3 linked regions of the Homo sapiens genome follow. The protein of the gene in region 2 interacts with the protein of the main gene of each other region in a pairwise test. Each region holds a gene or a part of one and is shown on either strand. Other genes may lie near its edges. The genes, in order: TPM2, ZNF229 and CABP5.

The links.
Region 1: the proteins of ZNF229 (region 2) and TPM2 interact in binary tests that used the Homo sapiens proteins (3 or more experiments, as listed by UniProt).
Region 3: the proteins of ZNF229 (region 2) and CABP5 interact in binary tests that used the Homo sapiens proteins (3 or more experiments, as listed by UniProt).

Annotation. Positions count from the first base shown.
Region 1 is NC_000009.12:35,686,819-35,694,406, reverse strand, and holds the start of TPM2 (tropomyosin beta chain), read left to right. Parts: upstream 1-4,481; 5' UTR 4,482-4,589; coding exon 4,590-4,703; intron 4,704-5,135; coding exon 5,136-5,261; intron 5,262-7,588. UniProt on the Homo sapiens protein: Binds to actin filaments in muscle and non-muscle cells. Plays a central role, in association with the troponin complex, in the calcium dependent regulation of vertebrate striated muscle contraction.
Region 2 is NC_000019.10:44,438,421-44,445,527, forward strand, and holds part of ZNF229 (zinc finger protein 229), read right to left. Parts: intron 6,747-7,107; exon of another isoform or gene 4,605-6,746; 5' UTR 4,428-4,604; coding exon 4,394-4,427; intron 4,202-4,393; coding exon 4,143-4,201; intron 1-4,142. UniProt on the Homo sapiens protein: May be involved in transcriptional regulation.
Region 3 is NC_000019.10:48,034,063-48,041,169, reverse strand, and holds part of CABP5 (calcium-binding protein 5), read left to right. Parts: intron 1-421; coding exon 422-565; intron 566-1,852; coding exon 1,853-1,962; intron 1,963-6,807; coding exon 6,808-6,955; intron 6,956-7,107. UniProt on the Homo sapiens protein: Inhibits calcium-dependent inactivation of L-type calcium channel and shifts voltage dependence of activation to more depolarized membrane potentials. Involved in the transmission of light signals.

The sequences.
Region 1 (7,588 bases), on a different chromosome or scaffold from region 2:
TATTTTCCATATGACGAATGCACGGTGTTACAAAATTATGCATGGGTAAAAGATCCAATCAGGTGCAGTTCAGAAAAACGGATTTTTTTTTTTTTTTTGAGACAGAGTCTTGCTCTGTCACCCAAGCTGGAGTGCAGTGGTGCAATCTCGGCTAACTGCAACCTTCGCCTCGCAGGTTCAAGTGATTCCCCTGCCTCAGCCTCCCGAGTGGCTGGGATTACAGGCGTGTGCCACCACCACACCTGACTAATTTTTGTAGTTTTAGTAGAGACGGGAGGGTTTCACCATGTTGGCCAGGCTGGTCTCGAACTCCTGACCTCAGGTGATCCACCCACCTTGGCGTCACAAAGTGCTGGGATTACAGGCGTGAGCCACCACACTTGGCCAAAACAACGGATTTTAGTTTAACAGTACAAAAAGGTCACTGATATGGTTTCACATTCTACATTGCAACTGCCCCTTAAGAAACTGCCAATTATCGGCCAGGCACAGTGGCTCAGGCCTGTAATTCCAGCACTTTGGGAGGCTGAGGCAGGAGGGTAGCTTGAGCCTAGGAGTTTGAGACCAACCTAGGCAACATAGTGGCACACCATCTCTATTTAAAAAAAAAAAAAAAAGGGCCGGGTATGATGGTGCACATGTGTAGTCCCAGCTACTGGAGGAGACTGAGGCGGAGAGAGCACTTGAGCCCAGAAGGTCAAGGCTGCAGTGAGCCAAGCCGTGATTGTGTCTCTGCACTACAGCCTGGGTGACAGAGCCAGACCTTGTCTCAAAAAAACATAAATATGCCAGGCCCGGCATGGTGGCTCACGCCTGTAATCCCAGCACTTTGGGAGGCCAAGGCAGGCAGATTATCTGAGTTCAGGAGTTCAAGACCAGCCTAGCTAACACAGTGAAACCCCGTCTCTACTAAAAATATAAAAAGTTATCTGGGCATGGTGGCGGGCGCCTATAGTTCCAGCTACTTGGGAGGCTGAGGCAGGAGAATGGCGTGAACCTGGGAGGCGGAGGTTGCAGTGAGCCGAGATTGTGCCACTGCACTCCAGCCTGGGCAACAGAGCGAGACTCCGTCTCAAAAAAACAAAACAAACAAACAAAAAATACAACAGTTAGCTGGGTGTGATGGCTTATGCCTGTAGTCCCAGCTACTCGGGAGGCTGAGGCGGGAGAATCACTTGAACCTGGGAGGCGGAGGTTGCAGTTAGCTGAGATCGCCCCACTGCACTCCAGCCTGGGTGACAGCGCGAGACTCTGTCTCAAAAAAATAAACAAATAATAATAATAATAAATAGGCCAGGCGTGGTGGTTCACGCCTGTAAGCCCAGCACTTTGGGAGGCCAAGGCAGGCGGATCACTTGAGGTCAGGAGTTCGAGACCAGCCTGGCCAACATGGTGAAACCCTGTCTCTACTGAAAATACAAAAATTAGTCAGGCATGGTGGTGCATGCCTGTAGTCCCAGCTACTCAGGAGGCTGAGACAGGAGAATTGCTTGAACCTGGGAAGCGGAGGTTGCAGTGAGCCAAGATCGCACCACCGCACTCCAGCCTGGGCAACAGAGCAAGACTGTTTCAAAATAAATAAATAAAATAATAAATAAATCTTTCCAACTGCATATCTGTTGTGAGACAGGATTTTCTTCATATGTCTCAGTAACCAACATATAGCAACAGATCAAATATGGAAGGAGATATTGATAATACAGCTGTCCCCTTGGAAGCCAGAGAGTAAAGAGATTCGTAAAAATGTAAAATAATTTCCATACTCTCATTAATTCGGGGAATGGGAATATAGTTATCTTTCATTTAGAACATTATGTTAACATGATTAATGTGTAATGAGTTTATTTTTGTTATTTTTAACGAATTGATACATATTTAAAATTTTTCTCAAGTTTCATTTTAATATGGCAACTATTGGTAGATATAACCCACTTCAACAAAAAAGCTGTTTGGGGGTCTTCAATACTTTTTAAGAGTGTAATGGGTTCTAAGACCAAAAGACCCACACCGTATTAGTATATTTGATAAGTACCCAGAAACTGGTACATAAAAAACTCATCTGGCAAATGTTCATGAAGTGCCAACTCTATGCCTGGTGCTGTGATAGGCCTTGGGGATTCAGAATTGAGAACAGTCGTTTCTGTTGAGGACTCACAGACCGGCGGAGGCGCCAAACCGGTATAAGAACAGTTATACCATGGGACTAGGATGAGGGTGAGAGCCCGCACCAAGAACACGCACCTATTAGGTGAGGCGGTGGGAAGAGAAGTGGCCAGGGAAGGCTTCCCAGAAAAGCTGACACTTACTGAGTCTTAAAGGCCACCAGGAATCAGCCAAGGGGATGGGCATTTTAGGGAGAGAGAACAGAATGCATAAACTGTGGAAGCTTTAAGAAAAGTATGGCTATTTCCAGCTCCTGCACGTAGCTCATTATGAATGCAGCATGAGGTACAAGTATGAATACTGGGGGTGAGGTTGGGCATGGAAGGAGATGAGGCCAGAGAGGCAGGCAACAGCCAAAACAACGGGCCTTCTATACCATATTAAGAAATGTGGATTTTTTTTTTCTCCTCAAAACAGGCAGGGTGCCCGCACGCCTGTAATCCCAGCTACTCAGGAGGCTGAGTCGGGAGGATCACTTAAGCCCATAAGTTCAAGACCAGCCTGGGCAATCTAGCAAGCTCCCGTCTCAAAAAAGGTGGGGGGACAGGGATTAGGGAGGGGTTTTGGAGAATTTTAGATAATATTCGCATTAACTTTTAAAAAGATATTTGACAACAATGTCATGGGACAGTCAAATGAATGAATGAGTTGAGGAACTAGAAGTAAGACTACAAAACAGACTGAAGAAAACATAAGGCGCGGCCAGAGGCCAGCCCAGACCGACCCGAGGAGGAACCTCCTTGGTAGAAGGCAGCCTCTCCAGGATTAGGTGGTTGTGAGACGCGAAGGGCAGGGGATACCCAGTGGTCTAGCATAGGCTACTGGTGGATGAGGCGTCTTCCACGGAGTTAGAGGAACACTGCGAGGTCAGGCCAGGGTTGCTCTCCGTGTGGCTAGCAGGCAGCTAAACAGATCTGAATGCATTTCCACGCCACCTCCCCACCGCCCCGGCCAGCGGCCTCGGGTTCCCACGGTCCCCAGCCCACTGCAAAATCCAGGCCTCCCGCCCCTCTATGACTGGAGGGTGGGGGCGAGGCTAGCAGCTCCCTCCCGGCTTCCTCCGCTTGTTCTCTCCTCCCCTTCCCCCTCCTCCCGGCGGCTCTCCACTTCCTTTCCCCCCACCCCACCCCAGGGAAAAACGAAAACAAACACCCTCGCGCCTCGCGCCTCCGACTCCCAGACCCCACGACCCGGCTCCGGCGCTGGTTTGGCGGCCTGGGTGGGAGAAGGCACCTCGCCCCGGACCCCCTATGCCCCGCAGCTCAGTGACTCTTCCCCTCGCCCTCCGCCTTCCCCGCCGCAGCCCGGCTCCGCCTCCCAATGGGGAAACATCCCAAAAAAGGGCAGAAAAGAAATTTCAGCATAAAGTTGGCCCACTGGGAAAGAGAGGAGCGTCCGCGGGGAGCGGGGGAGAAGAGGGAAGGCGCGCGGAGGGGAGTGGGGCCAGGCGGAGCCAGGGGCGGGGAGCGGAGGGGCTCGGGACGCGTCCGGGTGGGAGCGGGGGCGGGGAACGCGCGGTGACCAGCCTGGCCGCAGCCGCGTGGAAAATATGCGGGGCACGTGGGGGGCGGGGCGGGGAGCTGGGTCCTGAGCCGCCGGGTGCTCGCAGGAAGGGCCTGGCTCCAGGGGCAGGGGCTGGGAGGGGAGGCGAGGGGATGAGAGGTCAGGCCGGTCCTGGGGGCAGCAAGCCCGGCCACACTCCCCACCGCGACCGGGGCTCTGGGCTCGCTTCCTGCTTCAGTTTCCCCAAGCTCCCGATGAGACTCCGCTACTACCACCACGTCGATAACGCAAACCTAGAGGGACTCAGGGTAAACTGAGGCACTCAAACTGCCGAGGAGCTCCGCCTCCCGAGAGACATTTAATCCGGGGGGATTTGCAGGAAACTTCTAAATTAAGGGTAGCGGCTGCTGCAGCTGAGGGGGGGCACGCCGGTCCCTGCGCCCGGGCAGCTGCCGTGAGCTCACGCCCCGAAATAGCCCCAGGGGCCCCAGCCGCAGCTGCCACTGGGTCCGGCTGTCACTCAGAGGAAGCACGGAGCCCCCAGCCCAAGGGTCCCCTCCCCTTCGCATCGCCGGGGTTTTTCCAGCCGACCGTCGGCCACTTTTTCCTCCGACGGCTGGCAGGGAAGAGGGGGATGGGGGCGGGACCCCAAGGGAGGCGGTCCCCAGTGGGTGGGCGAAGGGGGCGGCCGCACCCCCCGGCCGGGCCGTGCTTCTGCCCCTACAAGGTTTGGGCCGAGGTGGGGGAGGGTCCTGGTTGCCGGCCCCGCCCGGTCCCTCCCCGCCTTTTAGGCGCCCGCGTGGCCGGGACGTCCCAGTCCCGCTCCGTCCTCCTCGCCTGCCACCGGTGCACCCAGTCCGCTCACCCAGCCCAGTCCGTCCGGTCCTCACCGCCTGCCGGCCGGCCCACCCCCCACCGCAGCCATGGACGCCATCAAGAAGAAGATGCAGATGCTGAAGCTGGACAAGGAGAACGCCATCGACCGCGCCGAGCAGGCCGAAGCCGACAAGAAGCAAGCTGAGGACCGCTGCAAGCAGGTTAGGGCCGGGCCCAGTGCAGCCTGCTCTCCCCGCGCCTAGGGCAAGGGTGGGCCGCTGCCATGGGTCCCCCAGCCCCGGGCCTGCCCGCCAAGGCTCTCTCTCACCCAGGGTGGGGGCTGGGCCTTCGCAGTACCCTCAGGGCCTTCGCCAGAGCCGCTTCTCTCCCCTACAATAGCCTGGGGAAGCCCCAGGCCCCTGGTTTCCACTCTGCCTTTGCAGAGCGCGGTTGGTCCTGCTCCTTGGGGCCTGAAGTTTTCTCTGTACCCTCAACGGGTCCCACCAGTACCCTTGACTGTACTGTCCCTTTTATGTTATTCCGCTTCCATCCCAGTAGCCTCCAAATCTTAGTAGCGCCCCTACACACACCGCGTCTCCATTCTGGGCCTGGGCCCCCTCCCAGCCTGGCTGACCAAGTCCCCTCTGTCCCAGCTGGAGGAGGAGCAGCAGGCCCTCCAGAAGAAGCTGAAGGGGACAGAGGATGAGGTGGAAAAGTATTCTGAATCCGTGAAGGAGGCCCAGGAGAAACTGGAGCAGGCCGAGAAGAAGGCCACTGATGTGAGTGTGGACTTGGGGGACAATGGGAGGAGTTAGGGCTCTGGGAAGGGGCCCCCCGGGTATGGGAATAAGAGGATTGGGGCACCTTATCCCCTTATGTCCCCAGCGCCAGGAGAGAAATGGTTTCATCTCAGTAACCAGGGCTAGGGTAAACTTACACAAGTAATCCAAGACAGTGGATAAATCAAAACCACCTACCACTTCCCCCAGAGGACTTAGCCCTGTAATTCTGTTTGGTTCCAGCTTTTAGAATGTACAGTGATCAAGCAATGAGTCATTGTGGGGGTGGAAGGTATAAGAATTTACCATCTACCTCAATTAATCCTCCAGCTGAAATTGGAGAGGAGACTGCAGCCGTTTGGGGATGGGGGGATGTGGATGTGAGGTACTAGCCTGCAGGAGGAGGGAGAGGGATCCAGAGATGAGACCCCACTTGAGTTACAACCCTAAGGGGCCATTAGAAATTCCCTGGCCTTGACCTCTGGCTTCAGCAGCCCTGCTGTGCCCTGGGGCCCCAGCTCAGGTTCTAATGGCTCCTCATTTACCCTCATTAAGCTGTCAGCCTGGAGACCATGCCAGGCCACAGGGCAGAGGGACAGGGCCACAAATGCCAAAGCAGCTACCTTGGCAGGTCATTTACCCTGAGATTTCTCTGCCCACCCCACAACCCCAACCAGACTTCACTTCCTGCCATTCCCAACCCCCAGCTTAAGGTAGGAGAATGGCCATATGGCTTTGGTGTGGTGGTAGTTTCCCCATTCTCTGCCTCAGTTTCCCCATCTTCCTTCCACCCAGGATTGTTTTAAGATGAACCTATGGTTAGATTAGCATAAAGCATGGTCTGAACATCAGAGATGACATAGCTGTTTGTGTCGACTGCTCATGTTCCCAGCCCCCCAGGGGTTGGGCTTCTGTGACCTCCAGCCTCCAGTTTTGGTTCTCCACCAGTCCTGGCACTTGGGAGGGAGCTGACCTGCAGCTGCTAGCACAGACAACCCTGGGCATCTGACACTCTATAAATAACCAAGGCCCAGTGCAGCTGGAGGCAAGATTGGAAACCCAAGTTGCTGGTGGGGGCTGGAGGGGCAGGGGGGACAGGGACAGAGCTGGGGAGGCAGAGCCGCAGCACCAGGAGCAGATAGGAAAGACTGCCCAAGCTTCCTGGTGACCTTGAACACAGCACTCAACTTACATGGTGCCTCAGTTTCTCCCTCTCTCTTGCTTCCCATTTTTCTAATGGGGACAGTAGTGCCTGTCCTGTGGTTAGAGAGCCGCCCCCGTAACTGGGAAGAGCTTGAGAGGCAGGAAATGGCACATATCAGTCCCATGATGAGGACCCCAGGACTTCCCAAACTTTCCAGAGTCTTTTGTCACCCCACCATCATGCAGAGTTTTTCTTTTACAGTCTCACCTCTCTCTAGGGTAGTACTCCAATGTCCCCCACAGTGATTCTTCCCAACCCCCAATGCTGTCCCCAGAATGCTTCCACACTGTCATCCGGCCCTGTGCCCATGATGGGCTCTTGTCACTCTAGGTGGCCAAGCTCCAGGTGCCTTCAGCACCTGGAAGACAAGCTACCATCTACTCTCTATATATGGTGCTGTTTCTCCTGCCCTACAGTCCGACCAAGGACCTGCTTCCTATGCTGTGTCCAAGTGCTGCCCCCAGCCCCTCCCCCCACCTCCTTTCCCTACACAGGTCCTCTCTCCTTTCCACTCTGAAATCTCAGGGTCTCTGTGTCCTTGTTTTTGACAGAGAAAGGGGATAACCTAATATTTATGGAATGTGGACCCTGTGCAGGCAATGTACTCAGTGCTTTCTGCATGTTATTTTACAATTTCCCAAACTTGGCTTATCATCAGAATCACTCGGGGGCTTTAAAAAAAAAAGAGAAGATTCCCAAGCCCCCGCCCTACACATCCCAATTCAGTGGATCTAGCATGGAGTAAGAGAACCTGTTTAGTTTTATGAGTCTCACCGAAGGTCCTGTTGATTAACTGAGTATTAAAAGCAGTGGATTATCTCAGAACAGCCTTAAGAAGGAGGAACTGTTATTGTTAACTCCAACTTGTGAAGGAGGAAACTGAAGCTTAGAGAGGCTAAATAAGTTGCCCACAGTTACACAGGTGTTGAGTGGCTGAGCCGTGGCTCAAAGACAATCTGACTCAGAGCCGATGCTCTTAACACGTGGCTGCCCTGCTCCTCTCATTTTCCTTTACTGGCGCTCGCCTTGCTCTGCCCTTTTTCTCAGTGTTTGACCAGTTTTTATGGATTTTTTCCAAAACCTCCATGGTTTTGCCTCCTACTGCAAGCCCAGGGGCTGAGTA
Region 2 (7,107 bases):
ATTGCTATGATTTCTTCTCAAATATTGTGGCAATAATATATTAACAGTTTACAACGAAGTGTGTGACGCTGTGAAATAGATATTTGGTCTCTGTGGCATATAACTCCAAAAGCCCTTAGAAACTCCACCGTGATGTCTTTTTCTATGCTAATGGGTTGACTAGTAGCTGGCAGCTGGCAGGTAGCTTCAGGATGGGGCTGCTTACTGGAAAGAACAAGGAAGGATTAGAGGATTAGACTTATAGTACTTCCCCCTCCCCCAACCTCCAGTGAGGGGAGAGGAGCTGAGGGTGAAGTTGATCACTGGTGCCTACCTAATGAAACTTTCATAAAAACCTAAGAGGACCAGGTTCAGAGAAATTCTGGGAAGGTGACATGCCCAGAGAGGGCATGGAAGCTCCATGCCCCTTACCCCATACCTTTGCCCCATGCATCTCTTCATCTGTATCCTTTTGTGATATCCTTTATAATAAACCAGTAAACATAAGTGTTTCCCTGAGTTCTGTGAGCTGCTCTAGCAAATTAATCAAACCCAAAGAGTGGGTTGTGGGAACCCCAACTTGCAGCTGGTTGGTCACAAGTTCTGGAAGCCTAAACTTGCAACTGGTGGGAGGGAGGAGCAGTCTCTTGTGGGACAGAACCCTCAACCTGTGGGATCTGACACTACCTCCGGGCAGACAGTGTCAGAATTGAACCGAAGGGCACCCAGCAAAACTGCCACAAAACTGATTGCTTACTTGAGGAGAAACCCACACACATTTGGTCACAGAAGTCTTCTGCCTGTGATTATTGTTGCTGAGTGTCAGAATACAAACAGCACTTAGAGTTTCAGTAGCTTTTTCCACACTAAGTATACCCCTTTGGGCCAGCAATATTCAGACATTTACATCATAGAATTTAAAGATTAAAGAACAGGATGCAAAAATCACATGTGTTTGTACTGTTTGTAGTGCTAAAACTGGTAGTAATCAGAACTGAATATCTTATGGTAGTAAAATACACACTACATGGAAAGCATACATGTTTCCATTTCCTTTTTTTTGAGATGGAGTCTCACTCTGTCGCCCAGGCTGGAGTGCAGTGGCATGATCTCAGCTCACTGCAACCTCCGCCTCCCAGGTTCAAGCGATTCTTCTGCCTTAGCCTCCCGAGTACCTGAGATTACAGGTGTGCGCCACCATGCCCGGCTAATTTTTTTACTTTTGGTAGAGACAGGGTTTCACCATGTTGGCCAGGGTGGTCTTGAACTTCTGGCCTCAGGTGATCTGCCCGCCTTGGCCTCCCAAAGTGCTGGGATTAGAGGTGTGAGCCACCATGCCCAGCCCCATTTCCTTTTTAAAAAGAAGGTAACATATATTTTCACATGACAAAGATATTGATGGATTCACACCTCTTTGTTAATGTTGGGCATATTAGCGAGGACAGTTGGGGGAACCTAATTTATTTCATTATAGACCTTGGTATGGTCTGTCTTCTACTAAATCTTTATTTTAAAAGTTATAATGAAATATATATAAACTAGTATTATTAACATGGCTGAGCTACAGAGGTTTAATACTATGAGTGAGTATGGCAGACAACCCAAAAACATCTCCATGGGAGTCCCACAGAGTCTCACAGTTGTAAACTGCACAGACCATCTTAACACACAGGACTCAAAAAGCTACACCCACTCAATTTTTGTGTAGGGGGGAGCTTGCTAGAAAAAGAATTAATCAGAAATTTTTTAAGTGTAAAAAAAATCGCAGCTAGGATTGGAAGAAAAAAACAACTTAGAGCTTAGCCTAAACAGATGAATGAACATCCAAGAAGAAAGAACTGTAAAACAGGACAGGATTCTGGAACACAGTGGAAAATGGCAAAAAGAAAGAAGAAAGAAAAGAAAAAGAAAAGGAAGAAGGAAGGAGAGAAAGAGAAAGAGAAAATAAAGTGAAAGAATAGGAAGGACAGATCCAGAAGTTACACCATTTATCCAGTAGGCATTCCAGGAAGACCAACTGGATTAAATAATAGTAATAATTGACATCAGGCACAAACAGAATTAATGCCCGAGAGAACAGAGCAAGGAAAATAAAGTGTGATCCATGAAAATGCCACACACCCAAGCATAAACACAACAGATGCTTCTAGAAAAAAATGACAAGAATGAATTTAGCTCACCAGAAGGTGAATGGAGAAGCCACAATACAAAGTCCTACACAAGACTTAATACAAGAAGAAAATGACACAACCTGTACTGAGTCCAGAAAGTGTGAATGAAGAATTTTAAGCCCTGGCAACTTGCAATTTGAACATAAAACCAACATTCTTTTTTTTTTTTTTGAGACAGGGTCTCGCTTTTTCACCCAGGCTGGAGTAGAGTGGCATGATCTTGGTTCACTGCAGCCTTGATTTCCCTGGGCTCAAGCAATCCTCCCACTTCAACCCCCAAGTAGCTGGGACTATAGGAATGCACCACCACACCCAGCTAATTTTTTAGTATTTTTGTAGAGACAAGATTTTACCATGTTGCCCAGGCTGGTCTCGAACTCCTGAGCTCAAGTGATCCGCATGCCTCAGCTTCCCAAAGTGCTAAGATTACGAGCCACTGCACCTGGCCCACAACATTCTTAAACTTGGAAAAATGCAGAGGATACTATAGCCAAGTCTTTGGCGTGGGGGAACAAAAAGACTGCATCCAAAGTCTTTGTAGATGAAATTGAGGCAACCAACAAATAAATTCAAGTAAGAAAGTTGTGGTAAAAGGAGAGGCGGTGAGCAATGACTTAAATACACAGAAGTGAGTCTCAACTGGGGGAACTTATGGTGACGAATCAGAAGATAACAATGACAATAACAATATAATAACAATCAGAAGATGGTAGGAAGTAAAAACGTGCTAATTGCTTCAACTTTCACAGCAGGAAGTAATCAATAATATTTAAAATTAAGGTACACAGTAAAAGAAGTGAATCAAATCTTCAAAATTATTTCACAATCTCTTTTCATAAAAAGAAAGGTTTAGAAAATAATGTTTCATGTGTTGAAAAAACATACTTAAAATTCTGCAATGGCTATGATTTTTTTCAGTTTAAAAGAAAATTAAGAAATATGTATATACTAAAGGATAGCCTATTTCCATATCCCTATATTTTCATTTACTTTATATCGCTTGATAGCAGCTTAGAATCTAGACAAAAGAACGAATGAAACTACAATTCACTAATTCAATAGATGAACATGGAATCCATATCACTATATGTGTGTGTACATATATATGTATATATATTTGTAGATATGTGTACATATATGTGTATATACACATTTGGCTGTTATGAATGATGCTGCAATTATCATTCTTTGCACATTTATTCTGACTTAGAAAAAATTCTTAGAGTGGGAAATGCTCGACCAGAATAAGGAGAACTTCTAGAAAGGCAGAAATACTCCTGCAGCTGTGTGGATGTACCCATTTCTCCATATCCCAGCTAACAGTGCATGTTGACCTTTCAAATCTTTGGCTGTCTGCTAGAATAATCATAAATCTTATTTCAATGTGTATCATTTTGATTAATAGAGGCTTATAGTCTTTTCATATGATTAGTGGGCATTAGTTTTTCTCTGCTCCCTTCCTGAACAAGAATGCTCAGGTCTTTATGCATAACCCTCTTCTGAAAATAAGGATATTAAAATTTTGTCATAGATGAAACTTTTCTAATATGTTTTTCTTTTTTTAACTTTGTGCATGGTATACTTTTGGTAGGGTCTACTACATGGAGAACATTACATCTATAAATGAATAACGTTCCACAGAGGAGAACAACCCAGGCAGCGATGATTCAGTATTTGGAGAGTCATCTCTCTGCTAATCTAGGCTTGGGCCTCTGCGTGAAGCTATTGCGGTGGCAGGAAGGCATAGCGGAAAGGTAGATTATCGAATCCAATTGACCTACCTGAGTTCAAATCCTGGATCCCCCATTCATTTCTTCATCTCTAAAACAGAATCATACTATCTGTCTCACATCACTATTTTGTGGATAAATGCAACGAGAAATGTATTCACCCAATACATTTTTCGCTCTTTTTCCTTTTACCGAGAAGGGACGTATGTTTTCTCTCTGATGCCTAAGGTGGTATTTCGGGAGAGAAAAGAAAACAACCCACCTGAGACATGATCTTCTCCTCCCTATCTTGGGAAATGGCTGAGGCTTGAGAATGAAGAGCTGTAGGAGGAGAAAGAGGCCATGAGGAGGAGTTGGTGCTGCCTGAAGCTCTAGATCATCTACCTGGTAGGAAGGTGCCCAGCTTTACAGACTGGTTTCTTCTCACTTGAGGAAATTCCTCAACATCCAACTTTTTCTCCTCCACACTCAGTTTGGATTCTCCCCCCACCCACCCCCTCTATTAGCTGTCACCTCTTTTCTCATGCCTTGAGGTCAAAGTCTCCATGGTCTCTTCTGCTAGGTTCTCTGCGAGCAGCAGCAACTGTATTTATTCTCTGGTTTTCCTAAGCTGGAGACGCAGAAGATCCAGGCCTTTTTCATTCCGGAAACTCTCCAAGCTCTGACAAGTTCCTGTCTCCACCTTTACTGTCCAGAGCGCGACTGCTTCCCATGGTCAGGGGACCTGTAGGTTCGGGAGGGAACTTTACTTAGTCCTTTCTTCTGGGCCCCAAGGCTGTGGTTCACATCCCCTGGATACTATTCATTCAGTAGTTTACAGGACATTTACTGAGTACTTGTTAGGTTTAGTCCCCTACTCTGAAGGGGCTCATAGTCCACAAAGCCAAGAGTGTTGCAGATGGGTAAGGACAGTCACAGAAGAGTCTGTGAGGAGGGTCCTGCAGCTAAATTCTCAGTAAGGCACAGGGCCCCTCAGAAGGGCAGAGAGACCCCACAAATATATGGGACCTGTGACCTGTGAAGAAACACCTGGAGAGGAAAAGCTTTATTAACGCAATACTGTTTGACTTGCAAAAAATAAAATACAATAAATCCCCATACTTAGGGATTATAGAAATCAGGATATAGATTAGAGCCATCTTTAGTCAGCGTTTTTAACTTTTTTTGTGCCATGGCCCCCCTTCACTAATCTGATGATACCTAAAGATCCCTACTGAGAATAAAGTTTTAAATGCATAAAATGAAATGCAAAGAATTATATGGAAATACAACCTTCAAAACTATTAAAACTCTGCATGGCTCACTGTGCAAGTATAGTGCCACTTTATTAATACATTCAATATAAACAATAAATTTAACTACAATTTCAAAAGAGTAATGAGCATAAACAATACTCTGAAATATTTGCACAAACCAGAATATGACATAAAAATATCTATGATGTATATGGATGACAAAGTCACAAGTACTGCTAATAATATTGTGGCTTAGCACCTATGTTCACAATGAAATGCTACTTGTGACTTAGACTAGTATAATTTTTTTCCCATTCAAATTCATGGAACTCCTGAGTTATGCTCATGGAGCCCAGGGCAAGAATTCCTTTTCAAAATTAAGCCTCTTCTGCCCCGCCCCACCCCCCAGACTGAATTAATTACTCTGGGATCCAGCAACACATGGTATAAATTGCTGGTTACCACCTTTCACACGGCCTCCATGGTCAGATCTCTAAGTCATCAAAATAATTGAGTCTTCTTTTTCTTTATTTACCTTTCATGGCTCTGGCACACGGGAAGCACTTAAGGGTCCTAAGCAATTCTATCAGCAGGAGGTGATGCACACAGATTGAACAAAACTCTTACAATCTGCTCAGAGCTACTCGGGAGGTAGTGCAAAGACAGTGGACATGAGTTTCCACCCTTCCCCACCTTGCCTGGCCTCTTTCCTCTTGAAATTCAAGTCTCAAGGTCAAGTTCAGACAAACAGATACACATACTTGGGCTGTCTACTCTAGGACACTCACTGGATTTTACTGCTTCAGGAACTCAAATCTCCTTCTTTCCTCTAACCATCTGTACCAGCCCTCTGCATGGCCCACAGTGACAAGCATCTTTCTCTCTCCCTCCCTTCATGCACTGCCCTGAACTGGGGATTGCCCTTTGACCCAGGTGTGGACAACCAGGCAACACGCTACCCTCCTACACAAAGGACAAAGGGAAGAGTAGAGGCCAGATCTGAAACAAGGCCTCCACCGCAATGCCACTTAAACTCAAACTTCAGGATCCTCTAGGACTGCGCTTTGCAAACTTCAGTATGTTTAAAAATCACCATGAGCAATGATGAAAACAGACTGCTAGAGTCCAGCTCCAAAGATTCTAATTCTGTATCTCTGCAGTAGAGCCCAGGAGTCTGTGTTTTAAACGTTTCCAGGGGATGCTGACAAAGTGAGTCCAGGGGCCACACCTGAAGCAAACTTGCTAAGTTACCCTCACTTCCTCTGACTGGCTGATTTTCAGGGTTTCCAGAGACTTCCGGTGGGTAAAAATTTTCCTTGTGCTTCCTCCTCCTATCCCTGAACTCTTCAGGTCAGGAAGCCTCAAGAGTCAGCACATAAAGTTCTCTATCTTCTTTCACTCCCTTGGTGAACATATCCAGCCTCAGGCCTTCAACACAATCTACACACTGATGACTCCATGGCAACCTGCCATCTCCACTCTTATGTCTAAAAAGCAACTCAAAAAACATGTTCAAAAGAAAAGTCCAGATTTGCCCCTAGAGGTACTTCTCTCCTTTGAAATGAAGAGGAAATATTCTAGTCATCCTTGATTTCTTCCTCGTACTCTACATCCAATCCATCAGCAAATACCTACAAATCAGAACCAGAATCAGATTATTCTTGCTGCCACCGTCCACACCATCATGTCTCACCTGCATTAACGTGACAGCCCCCTAAATGGCCTCTGCATTCCTACTCCTGTTCGTTTCAGTCTACTTCCTACACAGCAGCTGGAGTGATCTTTTAAAAATATAAACTCATATTCTTCTCTGGCCAAAACCATCATTTTACTCAAAACCTTGCACCAAGGTCCTTTCAATGGCCCAAAGACCTTACACTATCTTCCTTCCCAATATTCAGTTTCCCACTTATCCTCCCTCTTTCTCATTCTGCTCAGCTCTGGCTTCCTTGCTGTTCTTCACATGCCCTCATCACCGGGCCTTCGTGTTGT
Region 3 (7,107 bases), 3.6 Mb from region 2:
CTTGTTGCCAGGCTGGAGTGCAATGGCACGATCTCCTCTCACTGCTACCTCCGCCTCCCAGGTTCAAGCGATTCTTCTGCCTTGGCTGAGGCAGCCTCCCTAGTAGCTGGGATCAAAGGCATGAGCCACCATGCCCAGCTAATTTTTTTGTATTTAGTAGAGATGGGGTTCTGCCATGTTGGTCAGTCTGGCCTCAAACTCCTCACCTCAGGTGATCCACCCACCTCGACCTCCCAAAGTGCTGGGATTACAGCCATGAGCCACCACATCCGGCCTTGGTTTTTTTGTTTTGTTTTGTTTTGTTTCTAATGTACGCTCCTTTAAGGAGTCTCTAGTTGGAGCCTCATTGATAGCTTCAAGAGATGCCACTCTTCCCCACTGACTGCTTCAAGTTCCCCCAAAGTTCTCTCTTAACTTTCAGAGCTGCGGGAAGCATTTCTTGAGTTCGATAAGGACCGAGATGGGTTCATCTCTTGTAAGGATCTGGGGAATCTCATGAGGACGATGGGTTACATGCCCACGGAGATGGAACTGATTGAGCTCGGCCAGCAAATCCGCATGAACCGTGAGTCCAGGGAATGGGAGGGATGGCCGGGGTTAGGGAAGGGATCAGGGCAGAATTGGGAAGGATGTAGAGGTTAAGAGTAGAGTTGGGGGTGGAGAGGAGGATGAGAGGGACTAGAAGTCTGGAAGAAAACAGGTCAGATTCGACTCAGGAAGGCAGCATTTGAAGTGGTTAAAAGCTTTTAGAGATAGGTCTGGGTTCAAATCTCAGTTCTATTATTTACTAATTACAGTCATTTTGAAAAGTGAAGTTATCCGCTACTCTTCAGTTTCCATTTCCTCATCTATAGAGGAAGATGCCTCTCTCCTTACCTCATGGGACTGTGGAAAGGAAGAGAAGGAAGAGATAAAGATGCTGATGCAGTTAAAGTCTTAGCCTCCAGTAAATTCTTATTAAAGGTAGTTATTACTATCACCACTAAGATTCATCAGTGGAGCACGAGATTGGAGCTGTATTGGATGTTGGAAACAAACTTGGAGCTGGAGCTAATGTTGGTGAATACAGCTGCAAAAAGGATGGATGGATTTTTGGATGGAGATCATAACTGATTTTTAGATTTTAGCTAGAATAAAATTCCTATTGAGGCTGGGCGCAGTGTCTCACACCTGTAACCTGTAATTCCAGCACTCTGGGAGGCTGAGGTGGGCAGATCACCTGAGGTTAGGGGTTTGTGAACAGCATGGGCAACATGGTGACACCCCGTCTCTACTAAAAATACAAAAAATTAGCCAGGCGTGATGGCGTGCACCTGTAATCCCAGCTACTCGGGAGGCTAAGGTACGAGAATCGCTTGAACCCGGGAGGCAGAGGTTGCAGTGAGCCGAGATCGCACCATTGCACTCCAGCCTTGGCAACAGAGTGGGACTCTGTCTCAAAAAAAAAAAAAAAAAAAAAAAAAAAAGCTATTGGGTTTGCTTCTGGGCATGTAACGAACTAAACAAGGTTGAATTCAAGGTAATGATAGTATTCATATCTGAAAAAAAAATTGTATGCTCATTTAATTCATGCTCCTCTTTGTACAGGTCTACAGAGGAGGAGAAACATCTTAACCAACTGTCTGAAAGTCACACAGGCAGTTACTTCCACCATACCACACCCTATCCACTCCTGTTCAGGCTAGAGGGACATGAGTTTGGAGCTTGGAGTTAGCTGCTGGAGGGAGGAAGTCAAAGACGGCTCTTATAGGGCAGGGAGAAGGGAGCTGATCTAACTGACTCGAAGCACAAAGTGAGGTAATGGAAGGCCAGGGCTTGTGGGGTCTCGCTAATCCTGTGCCATCTTCCTCAGTGGGTGGCCGTGTAGACTTTGATGACTTTGTGGAGCTGATGACCCCCAAATTGCTTGCAGAAACAGCTGGGATGATCGGTGTCCAGGAGATGCGGGATGCCTTCAAGGAGGTGAGTTAACAGTGTCATGGTGCTGGTGATGGTAGAGGCAGACCCTCTGAGGTCTGCCTGTAATTAGCCAATGCCATGGACAGCACCCACCAACCAGGCCCCCACCTTTTTTTTTCCAGCCATGGTGGGATCAATAAATAGGGAAGAAAAATAACGTATTCCAAACACCTGCAATGGATCAATGCCTCTGTATACTTTATCTGATTTAATCCTCAAAAAAACAAACAAACAAAAACAAAAACACGCACACAAACACATTAGGAGTAAGCAAGCAGTCATGTATCCCAATTAAACAGATGAGAAAAGTGAGGCTCATGAAGATTATAAATCTTATCCAAGATCCTGCCATCTCTAGAATAAATGTTAGGACTTTTTTTTTTTGAGACGGGGTTTCACTGTTGTCCCCAGGCTGGAGTGCAATGGTGCAATCTCGGCTCACTACAACCTCTGCCTCCCGGGTTCAAGCCAGTCTCCTGTCTCAGCCTCCTAAGTAACTGGGATTACAGGTGCGCGATACCACACCCAGCTAATTTTTGTATTTTTCGTAGAGACGGGGTTTCACCATGTTGACCAGGCTGGTCTCGAACTCCTGACCTCAAGTGATCCACCTGCCTCGGTCTCCCAAAGTGCTGGGATTACAGGCATGAGCCACCGTGCCTGGCCAGGGCCTCTATTCTTAGTGCCTGTAACAGGAAGAATCCAAGAATTTGAGATCCCAGAAGGGAATGCAAAGTGGTCATCTGGTACGAACCACTTGCTGCAGACATACTAAAAAATATCAGACCCAGTGAGAATAACAGACTTGCTTATATCCCCTGATAAAATACCTTCTCGTTCTGAGAGCTTTCAGCAACACAAGGTGAAAATAAAGAGTAGTAGAGTGTTTGGGAGCAAAGGATTTGGAACCAGGCAAACATGGGTTCAAATCCTAGGAGGCCTCCACCTATTGGCTGTGCAAGTGCCTCCCCCAGCTTCTTATAAAGATCTACAGCTGGCCGGGCTCAGTGGCTCACACCCATAATCCCAGCACTTTGGGAGGCCGATGCAGGTGGATCACAAGGTCAGGACTTTAAGACCAGCCTGGCCAAGATGCTGAAACCCCGTCTCTACTAAAAATGCAAAAAAATTTAGCCAGACATGGTGGTGGGCGCCTGTAATCCCAGCTACTTGGGAGGCTGAGGCAGGGAATTGCTTGAACCTGGGAGGCAGAGGTTGCAGTGAGCTGAGATCGCACCATTGCATTCCAGCCTGGGTTATAAGAGTGAAACTCCATCTCAAAACAAAAAGAAAAAGTTGTCTGGATTGAGAAGTGCTGTAAGTGTAACGTGAACACTGTATTAAGACTTAGTATGCTAATATAATTAGCATAACGTACTTGTATACTTAAGTAAACTTCTAGGCTAAGTATCCTAATTAAGCATGCTAAGCACCTACTAAGAACTTAGAACTTACTGCCTTATGAAATCCAGTGTGTATAAAAAGAATGCTACTTACATAGCTAAATTAATAATTTTTAAGTGGATTACATGATGAAAGGATAACACTTTAGATATATTGTGTCAAATAAAAGAGAATATTAAAAATTAGTTTCATTTGTTCCTTTTAACATTTTTTTAAACGTCACTACTAGAAAATTTTAAGGCCAGGTGCAGTGGCTCATGCCTGTAATCCCAGCACTTTGGGAGGCTGAGGTGGGTGGATCACCTGAGGTCGGGAGTTTGAGACCAGCCTGACCAACATGGAGAAACCCCGTCTCTACTAAAAATACAAAATTAGCTAGGCGTGGTGGTACATGCGTGTAATCCCAAGTACTCAGGAGGCTGAGGCAGAAGAATCGCTTGAACCCGGGAGGCAGAGGTTGCAGTGAGCCAAGATCGCACCACTGCACTCCAGCCTGGGTAAAAAGAGCGAAACTCCACCTCAAAAAAAAAAAAAAAAAAAAAAAAAAGCTGAATAGTATTCCATTGTGTACTTATGCCATGTTTTCTTTATCCACTCTTCTGTTTTGATGGACACAGGTTGCTTCCATACCTTGGCTATTGTGAATAGTGCTGCCATGAGCAGGGGAGTGCAAACATCCCTTTGATATACTGATTTCAATTACTTTAGATACATACCCAGAAGTGGTATTGCTGGGTCATATGGCAGCTCTAGGTTTAATTTTCTAAGGAACCTCCATACCATTTTCCATAATAGCTGTGCTAATTTCCATACCCAGCAAAAGTGTACCAGGGTTCCCTTTTATCCACATCCTCACCAACACTTGTTATTATTCATCTTTTTAACAGTAGCCATCCTAACAGATGTGAGGTGATATTTCATTGTGGTTTTAATTTAAATTTCCCAAATGATTAGTGATGCTGAGCATTTTTTTCACGAACTTGTTTGCCATTTGTCTGTCTTCTTTAGAGAGATAGCTGTTCACGTCTTTTGCCCATTTGTCTTCTTTAGAGAGATGGCTGTTCACGTCTTTTGCCCATTTGTCCTCTTTAGAGAGATGGCTGTTCACGTCTTTTGCCCATAGTTATTAGATTGATGCAAAAGTAATTGTGATTTTGCCATTAAAAGCAATATTTGTCATTATGCAGTATTATTAATTATAGGCACAATGCCACACAGCAGATCTCTAGAACCTATCTTGCGTAACTGAAACTTTATACCCATGGTACAATATCTCCCCATTTCCCTGTCCTCCTAACCCCCAGCAACTATCCTTCTACTCTCTGCTTCTATGAGTGTGGTTATTTTAAGTACTTCATATGTAAGTGGAATCATGCAGTATTTCTCCTTCTGCGTGGTATATATTTAAATGCAATATTCAGCCTTACAAAAGAAGGAAATCCTGCCCCACACAACAACACAAATGAACCTGGAGGACAGTATGCTGGGTGAAATAAGCCAGGTACAGAAGACAAGTATTTCTAAGTGTCTTGCTTGCTGCTCCGTGCTCAGTCCCAAGAACGGTGCCTTCCACATGGGCACTACTGACACATTTTTTTTTAGCAATATGGATACATATGTGTTGAATTAATGAACTGCCTCCAAAGCTCTGCCCTGCACACCCTTAACTAGTCTACCAGAAAGTCTAGTACGTTCAATTTCCAAAACATCGGGGAGTGAACTCTCCTTCTTGAGCTCTGCTGGTGCTAACTGGCTCAAACCACAACCATCTCCTACCAGGATGATCATGGCGGCCCTCTAATTGGTTTCCTGGCTCCCATCGTGGTCCTACTGTGGTCTGTTCTCTACACAACAGGGTTTCATGCTCACATTCTTTTAAAATGTATATCAGATCTGGTCACTCCCCTGCTTAAAATTCTCCAGTGGCTTCTTGTCTTACTCAGAACCAAATCCTGACAACGTCCCATGACACACAAGCCCCTACGTACTTGGGCCCTGCCTTCTGCAACACTGAGACCTTGTCTATTTCATGCTCATTTCTCCCCAGCTCACGCCTCCCTAAACACTCCCCACTTCTGCCTCTTCCTCAAGTACACCTTCCTGCCTTACGGCACTTGTTAACTTGCAGCTTCCTCAGCCTACAGCTGTGTCATCCAAAATAAATACAATGTAAGCAGCATGGGTCATTTAAAATTTTCTTTCTCTTTTTTTGAGACAGTTTTGCTCTTGTTGCCCAGGCTGGAGTAGAATGGCACAATCTTGGCTCACCACAACCTCCACCTCCCAGGTTCAAGCGATTCTCCTGCCTCAGCCTCTCGAGTAGCCGGGACTACAGGCATGCGCCACCACGCCTGGCTAATTTTGTATTTTTAGTAAAGACGGAGTTTCTCCATGTTGGTCAGGCTGGTCTCGAACTCCTGACCTCAGGTGATCCACCCGCCTTGGCCTCCCAAAGTGCTGGGATTACAGGCATGAGCCACTGAGTCCGGCATATTCAGCTTTTAAAAAGAAGGAAACTCTATCATTTACAACAACATGAATAAACATGAAGCACATTATTCTAAGCTATATAAGCCAGGCACAAAAGGACAAATACCACATGATGTTACATGCAGAATCTTAAAAAATTGAACTCATGCAAATAAAAAGAAAGGTGGTTAGCAGAGGCTGGGGAGCCACAGAGAAGGAATGGACAGTTGCTTGTCAAAGGGTACAAAGTTTTGGTTAGACAGGAGGAATAACTTTTGAGATCTATTGCACAGCAGGATAACTATAGTAAATAATAATGTATGTTTCAAAAATCACCTAAAAAGTAAGTTTTAAATGTATCGCTGGGCACTTTGGCTCAGGACTGTAAGCCTAGCACTTTGGAAGGACAAGGTGGAAGGGTTGCTTAAGGCCAAGATTTTAAGACCAACCTGGCCAAAATAGTGAGACCCCGTCTCATTAAAAAAAAGTTTCGGCCGGGCACAGTGGCTCAAGCCTGTAATCTCAGCACTTTAGGAGGCTGAGGCAGGTGGATCAACTGAGGTCAGGAGTTCAAGATCAGCCTGGCCAACATGGTGAAACCCTGTCTCTACTAAAAATACAAATATTAAACAGGTTTGGTGGTGCGCGCCTGTAATCCCAGCTACTCGGGAGGCTGAGGGACGAGAATCGCTTGAATCCAGGAGGTGAAGGCTGCAGTGAGCTGAGATTGCACCACTGCACTTCAGCCTGGGTGACAGGGTGAGACTGTCTCAAATAAAAAAAAAAAAAAAAAGAAAGAAAAAAAGAAAAAAAAAAACAGAACAAAACTGTCTTTTGGAGCTGACGTTCTAGTGGCTCACATTCCCAAAGCTTTTATCTCAGTGCTTGACCCACAGTAAGCGATAGGTAAACTCCATCATCTCGTGGCTATCATCATTGTCATTGCTGATATAATCTATTTCTGCTTCTATTCAGTTTGACACGAATGGAGATGGGGAGATCACCCTGGTGGAGCTACAGCAGGCCATGCAGAGACTCCTGGGGGAGCGGCTCACCCCCCGGGAGATCTCTGAGGTTGTCCGGGAGGCTGATGTTAATGGAGACGGCACAGTTGACTTTGAAGGTGACATTGACGGGGCGTGGTGGGGAGCGGGGGCAGCCACCGCAGGAATCCACTTCCAACTCACTGTCAGATTTTCCAAGTTGGCCACTCCTTCTCACTCCTCTCCAAGTTTGAGAATGGAAGCGGGTGGCAGGTTTTGGAAGCATTTGTTC